Homo sapiens: one gene and its partner. The protein of the gene in region 2 interacts with the protein of the main gene of each other region in a pairwise test. Each region holds a gene or a part of one and is shown on either strand. Other genes may lie near its edges.

Region 1 (3,749 bases), 6.5 Mb from region 2:
TCACTTGAACCCAGGAAGTCGAGGCTGCAGTGAGCTGTCATTGTGCCTCTGCACTCCAACTTGGGTGACAAAGTGAGACCCTGTCCCAAAAAAGAAAAAAAAAAAAGAAAGAAAAGAAAGGAGAAAAGAAAGAAAAAAGAAAGAGAAAACATTTGCCAATAGCAAGGACACAGGAATGCCTAAGCCTTGTGAAGTCAAGTACCAGGAAACAAGAAAGAATTAACTGTGTGAGATGGACTTGGTATAAGAAACAGCTTATCAGGCTGGGCATGGTGGTTCACGTCTGTAATCTCAGCATTTAGGGAGGCTGAGGTGAGAGGATCACTAGAACCCAGGAGTTTGAGACCAGCATGGGCAACATAGTGAGACCGTGTCTCAAAAAAATTTTAAAAAGGGCTGGGCGCAGGGGCTAACGCCTGTAATCCCAGCACTTTGGGAGGCCGAGGAGGGCAGATCACGAGATCAGGAGATCGAGACCATCCTGGCTAACACAGGGAAAACCAGTCTCTACTAAAAATAGGAAAAAATTAGCCGGGCGTGGTGGCAGGCGCCTGTAGTCCCAGCTACTCGGGAGGCTGAGGCAGGAGAGCGGCGTGAACCCGGGAGGCAGAGCTTACAGTGAGCCGAGATCATGCCACTAAACTCCAGCCTGGGTGACAGAGCGAGACTCCGTCTCAAAAAAAAAAAGAAAAAAAGGAAAAAAGAAAAAAAAAGGCCAGGCATGGTGGCTCACTAATCCCAACACTTTGGGAGACCAGGGTTGGTGGATCACTTGAGGTCAGAAGCTTGTGACTAGCCTGACCAATGTGGTGAAACCCCTTCTCTACTAAAAATACAAAATTAGCGTGGTGGTGCACACCGGTAATCCAGCTACTTGGGAGGCTGAGGCAAGAGAATTGCTTGAACCCAGGAGGCGGAGGTTGCAGTGAGCCGAGATCGCGCCACTGCATTCCAGCAAGGGCAACAGAGCGAGGCTGTCTCAAAAACAAACAACAAAAAAAGAAACAGCTTATCAGAGAGACAGTAAGGCAGGGGTGAGGACCACAGTCTGGAAAGCACATGGCCTATTTAAAGAGGGCATCTCAAGTCAGGGTGATAACCTCTAAGATACACCGGAAATCTAGATGTTTCTGTAAACCAGAAAAAGGCAGTAGAGGGTGAGCACACAGACTCAGAGCGGCAGAGACTCTGCCACCTCCTCACCTGACCCTCTCTTATCTATCAGCTTGGGGTAGTAACAGCACTTACTTCACAGGGCTTGATTATTAAACAAGTTAACATCTTTGGGCTCCTAGAACGATGCCATGTGCAGAGTCAGGACTGGGTAAATATTTGCTAAAGCAATCTCTTCATGTTTTTGACGCTGCAACTTAAAACACATGGCGCCAATCGTGGACACGGATATCCCGCTAGCCAGCTGTGGGGCCTGGGTTTGCTCACCCCAGCAGAGTGGTTGAGGGCGTCAGCTTGGAGGTGGGAGCCCAGCTGACGAGGGGGCCTTGGGCCCCTGGTTCTACTTGGGGATTATTGTATTATTAGGCTGGGGTCATTGTGGGGATTAGAAGGGTAACAGCTCCTGCTCCTGCTGCAGAGAAGCCTCCAGGTGGGGGTCACAGCAAGTGCAGATGGAGCTCAGATTCTTCGGTTAACTGTCACCCTCTCCCCTCCCCCATCACACACACCAGGCCCTGCCAGGACAAGGCAGCTCCTGGAAGCTCCACCAGGACCCACGTCCACCAGGTGTCACAGCAGGCTGCTTCTCTCTCTCTCTGCCCCCCGTGGGCTCTTCGCACCGCTCCCTCCCAGCCATCTTCCCTGCCTGACCTTGGTCTCTCTCTCTCTGTCTCCGTCACCTTCATGCCTGTGCCGTCTTTCTCGCTCTCTATCAACTCTGCTGTGTGTCCCCCTGGGGAAAGTGGGGGCACCTCCTCCTGAGCCCCCTGCCCAAGTTTCCTGCTGGGACGGGAGCCACTTCACCCCATACACACTCCCTGAAGCCCCTCCAGGACTCCAGCCTGGCTGCAAACACCCATCCTGGACTTTGCCTGGCCCTCCAGGCTCTGCTGGGGGAAGCGACCTGAGAGGCCCCTGCCTGGGCTGTAGGTGGGGACAGGGCAGACCCTTGGGCAGCGGAGCCTCTCTGGATGGGTGTTGAGGCACCCTGCAGAAACAGCTCCCCACAGGCACCCTTGCCACACCCCTGGGACTACAGGCACTTAGGGTACACCAGAGGCATGAAGTGTGGAGGGGGTTGGCCAACGGCCAAGCTCAAATAGGGGTTCAGATAGGAGAGGTCAATGTGGGCTCCTCTGAGCCCCAGTGACCCCCTTCTCCCCACCCACCTGGTGACAGGCATCTCGAACCCTTGGCCCCCATGGACCCCCTGAGGCGCTCCCCCTCTCCCTGCCTGTCCTCGCAGCCCTCCAGCCCCAGCACCCCACCCTGCGAGATGCTTGGTCCTGTGGGCATTGAGGCTGTGCTGGACCAGCTGAAGATCAAGGCTATGAAGATGGGGTTTGAGTTCAACATCATGGTGGTGGGTGAGTGAGAGGTAGGGCCCACGGCAGGACAGACCCACAGTGCTACGCGTGCCTGGGCGTGTGGCCTCACCTTTGGCAGCCTGTCGCCCCTCCCCATCTCTTAGGTGGGCCTGATAATAGCACCTCACAGGGATGTTGTCATTGAAAATTTGAGAAATGCTGAGTCATTAAAAGACAAAAATGTGCCTGGAGCGGTGGCTCACACCTATAATCCAGGGTTTTGGGAGACTGAGGTGGGTGGATCACTTGAGCTCAGGAGTTTGAGACTAGCAAAACCTAATGTCTACAAAAAGTACAAAAATGAGGCCGGGCATGGTGGCTCAAGCCTGTAATTCCAGCACTTTGAAAGGCCAAGGCAGGAGGGTCACTTGAGGTCAGGAGTTCGAAAACAGCCTGGCCAACATGGGGAAACTCCGTCTCTACTAAAAATACAAAAATTTGCCAGGCGTGGTGGTGGGCGCCTGTACTTAGGAGCTACTTAGGAGGCTAAGGCAGGAGAATTGCTTGAACCTGGGAGGCAGATGTTGTAGTGAGCCGAGATTGCGCCACTGTACTCCAGCCTGGGTGACAGAGCAAGACTGAAGCAGAAGGATCCCTGGAGGCCAGGAGTTCATGACCAGCCTAGGCAACACAGCAAGACCCCATCTCTACAAAAAAAATTTAAAAATTAGCCAGGCATGGTGACATGCACCTGAATCCCAGCTACTTGGGGGGCTGAGGTGGGAGGATCGTTTGAACCTGAGGGTGGAGGTTGCAGTGAGCTGCGATCACTTGAGTCTGGGTGACAGATTGAGACCCTGTCTTAAAAATTAAAAAACAGTGCAAGGCCGGGTGTGGTGGCTCACGCCTGTAATCCCAGCACTTTGGGAGGCTGAGGCAGGCGGATCATGAGGTCAGGAAATCAAGACCATCCTGGCTAACATGGTGAAACCCCGTCTCTACTAAAAATACAAAAAAATTAGCCAGGCGTGGTGGCGGGCGCCTGTAGTCCCAGCTACTTGGGAGGCTGAGACAGGGGAATGGCGTGAATCTGGGAGGCGGAGCTTGCAGTGAACCGAGATCCCACCATCGCGCTCCAGCCTGGGTGACAGAGCGAGACTGCGTCTCAAAAAAAAAAAAAAAAAAAGCAGTGCAAAAATCAGCTGGGTATGGTGGCGTGTGCCTACAGTCCCAGCTACTAGGGAGGCCGAGGTGCGAGAATCACTAGAG
Region 2 (3,115 bases):
TTGCCTTTTGCCGTCTCTGTGCTGACCAAGTTGTTGCTGGAGCATGCCAGACCTGTTTCCCACCTCGAAGCTGTGGCCTGCACTGAGCAGTGCCCCCACCTCTGCCCCCACCGTTTACACTTCCAACCACCCAACACTCAAGATGGGTTGTGTTTTTAAACTGTGGCACACAGTAGGCATTTAAATATGGCCACAAGGTGCCTTGGCATCTTTGTGACTTAATTAGGACTCGATCTGTTCTAACCATTTTCTCCTTTCATGAGGTAGGATCAGGTTCTTCACTGGAGGGGGATCCAGACAGACTAATGTGGCCTTTGACACCATGGAAGGATGCACAATAGACAGGACAGCATCATAGGGTGGCCTCCCAGGCACAGTAACCCTCTCCTAGGTGTCCTGAGAGCATCAGAACTCCCGCCCTACCTGCCTCTGAGGAAGGGCTGCAGAGAAGCCTCTACCCGCCCTGGGCGTGAGGGAAGCCAGGTTTGTGTGATTCGTGCAAAGAAAACCCGACAGGCCAGCGAGTGTCTTGTCAAGCTTTATTGGGCAGGTGACTTTTGCTCGTTTCACTCAGATCTTGTGGGCTTCTCGGCGGCAACTCAGGGCTTGAGCATTTGATGTAGGGGAGTTGCTATGGCCTCACTCGGTGTTTCTTGGGCAGGTGACTTTCTCTTAACTTCCAGCTGGGGGCTTGAGCATTTGATGTAGGGGAATTGCTATGGCCTCACTTGGTGTTTCGGGCGACTTTTTCTTAATTTCCAGCTGGGGGTGAGGGGCCCAGGAAGCTTAGTGCCTTCTGCATGTTCTCTTCCTGGTTCTGCAGCCTTTTGGGAAAGAAAGTTCTGGTTGAGGGGGTCACCTAGGGACTCTGGGTGGGGACGGGGGTTAGGGGGCTGGAGCTTTTGTCAGGTGGGGTGGGTCCCCGCCTCCCTCCTGTGCCTGGGGTGGTCAGGGACATGCAGGGCAAGGCGGGGGCGCAGGCAGACCTCTGCGATGCCTCCTCCGGTGCCTGCAGGAGCGTCTTTTGCGCCTTCTGCAGGAGCGATGCTGCCGCCTGTGGATCCGGTGCAGCCTCCTTCGAGAGCAGTGTCTGCGCCTATAGTGAGACTGGCCATGGGTCCTCTCGTAGACCTCGACGTGCTCCGGGCTCAGCCCTTGCTCCTCTTGGCCGTGGTGTCCTTGCTCTTGCCCATGCAACTGCTGCCTGTACACCTCGTGCGAGCGTTCGCTCAGGCTCCTCACGCGGTATCGGACCATGGTGTTGGGAGATCTGGTGGCTCCTGGGCTGAGGCTGCAGTGGGCCCTGGAGTAGGGGAGGAGGGCGGAGGCCTGCCCACCTGCCCTTGGTGTTACTGTTGGTCTGGTCTGCAAGGCTCCCCGGGAGCTTGTATATAAAGGGGGCGCCCACTATGACTCTGCGGCCCCGCCCAGTCCCCACCCTGCCCAGCCTCCTCTGTGAGGGCAGCACAGGGCCAGGGGTCACAACTAGCAGGGCCCTGGCACCCAAGCTGCAGGGCTGGAAGGGCGAGAGACCCCCTTGCCTTGCCTGTAAAGCATGTCCTCTGTCTCTTGCAGTAGGTGAACCATACAGATGGCAGGTGTTTTATTGCCTAATCCAAGCCCTCATCTCCCCAAGCCGGTGGGTGCGCACATTGTCATTTGGAAGCTTCCTTGCCAACTCACTGCTGTGCCACAGCCACCATGTGGAAGGGACTTCCGTGCTTGGATCTCTGTGCACACAGCTTACTGTTAAGATGGCAACAGCAGCAAACAGTTCCCTAATAGCTCCTATGTGCCAAGCATTGATTCATTTATTTCCCATACATTCACTCATTCTCTCTCTCTCTCTCTCTCTCTCTCTCTCTCCTCTTTTTGTTTTGAGGCACTGTCTGTCGCCCAGGCTGGAGTGCAGTTGTGCAATCATGGATCATAGCAGCCTCTACCCCTCCAGCTCAGATGATCCTGCCACCTCAGCCTCCCGAGTAGCTGGGACTATAGGCGTGTGCTGCCACTCCCAGCTAATTTTTTGTATTTTTTGTGGAGATAGATAGGGTTTCACCATGTTGCCCTGGCTGGTCTCACACTCCTGGCCTCAGTGAGCCTCCCATGTCGGCCTCCCAGAGTGCTGGGATTACAGGTGTGAGCCACCACCCTTGCATTCCTCACTCTTACAATCCTCATTTTCTGTGGGGCAAACAGGCATGAAGAAGTTGAGTTGCTCAAGGCCACTCTGCTGAGAAGGCCAGGCCGGGCCAGCATTCAGACGGAGACAGCCTGGTTTTAGTCATACCCTTGGCTCTCCACCTCCTCCCTAGCCCAGGGAATGCTCCCCTCTCCGCCTCCAAAATATTCATCTTCTCCCCTCCCGCTCGGCCTTGCCGGGGCTTCTCATTGAACTTTGATGATCCCATTAAAGTCCGGGATCAGAATCACAGAAACTGCAAAACCAGTTTCCCTTTCATGGAGGGCAGGGAGAATGTGGGAATGTGGCAGATACACAAATTTAAGGACTTGAAGATGCAGAGATCATCCCAGATGATCTGGGTTGGCCCAGTGCAGTCACGAGGGTCCTTAGAAGAGAGAATAGGGAGGCAGGAGGGTCACAGGAAGAGAAACTGGGAGACACCACACTGCTGGCTTTGAAGATGGAGGGAGAGGCTATAAGCCAAGGGATGCAGGCGGCCTCTAGAAGCTGGGATGGACAAGGAAATGGGTTATCCTCCCCTCGTGCATCCAGGAGGAACACAGCCCTGCTGACCCCTTGATTTTAGCCCCATGAGACTTCTTTCAGAATTCTGACCTGCAGACCTGTAAGATAATGCATTTATGTTGTTTAAAGCTACAAAATTTGTGATGATCTGTCACAGTGGCAATAAGAAACAAATTCAGGAGGCTTAATCTTCAGATCCTTACAGGAGGTGATGGGTGATATTGCCATGCCCTTGGTGTTTCTATGCTGCCTCTCTTTAGGGATAAGAAGGTCCTTTATGATGGCCCTCAAGCTCTTCGAGGGCGCGTGTTAAAAATATGAATGCTGAGGCCTTACCCTACGTCCCGCTAAGTCAAATCTCCATGGCCAAAGCTTGCAGATGAAAATAAGAAGGGGCGGGGCAGG

What was found. The genes of interacting proteins can lie anywhere in the genome.
Region 1: the proteins of PRM2 (region 2) and SEPTIN12 interact in a two-hybrid assay, tested with the Homo sapiens proteins (one study listed by IntAct).

Annotation. Positions count from the first base shown.
Region 1 is NC_000016.10:4,786,271-4,790,019, reverse strand, and holds the start of SEPTIN12 (septin-12), read left to right. Parts: upstream 1-1,674; 5' UTR 1,675-1,740; exon of another isoform or gene 1,741-2,103; intron 2,104-2,352; 5' UTR 2,353-2,374; coding exon 2,375-2,540; exon of another isoform or gene 2,541-2,551; intron 2,552-3,749. UniProt on the Homo sapiens protein: Filament-forming cytoskeletal GTPase. Involved in spermatogenesis. Involved in the morphogenesis of sperm heads and the elongation of sperm tails probably implicating the association with alpha- and beta-tubulins.
Region 2 is NC_000016.10:11,275,114-11,278,228, forward strand, and holds PRM2 (protamine-2), read right to left. Parts: upstream 1,368-3,115; 5' UTR 1,258-1,367; coding exon 987-1,257; coding exon of another isoform or gene 949-986; exon of another isoform or gene 940-948; intron 869-939; coding exon of another isoform or gene 825-868; coding exon 787-824; coding exon of another isoform or gene 717-786; 3' UTR 526-716; downstream 1-525.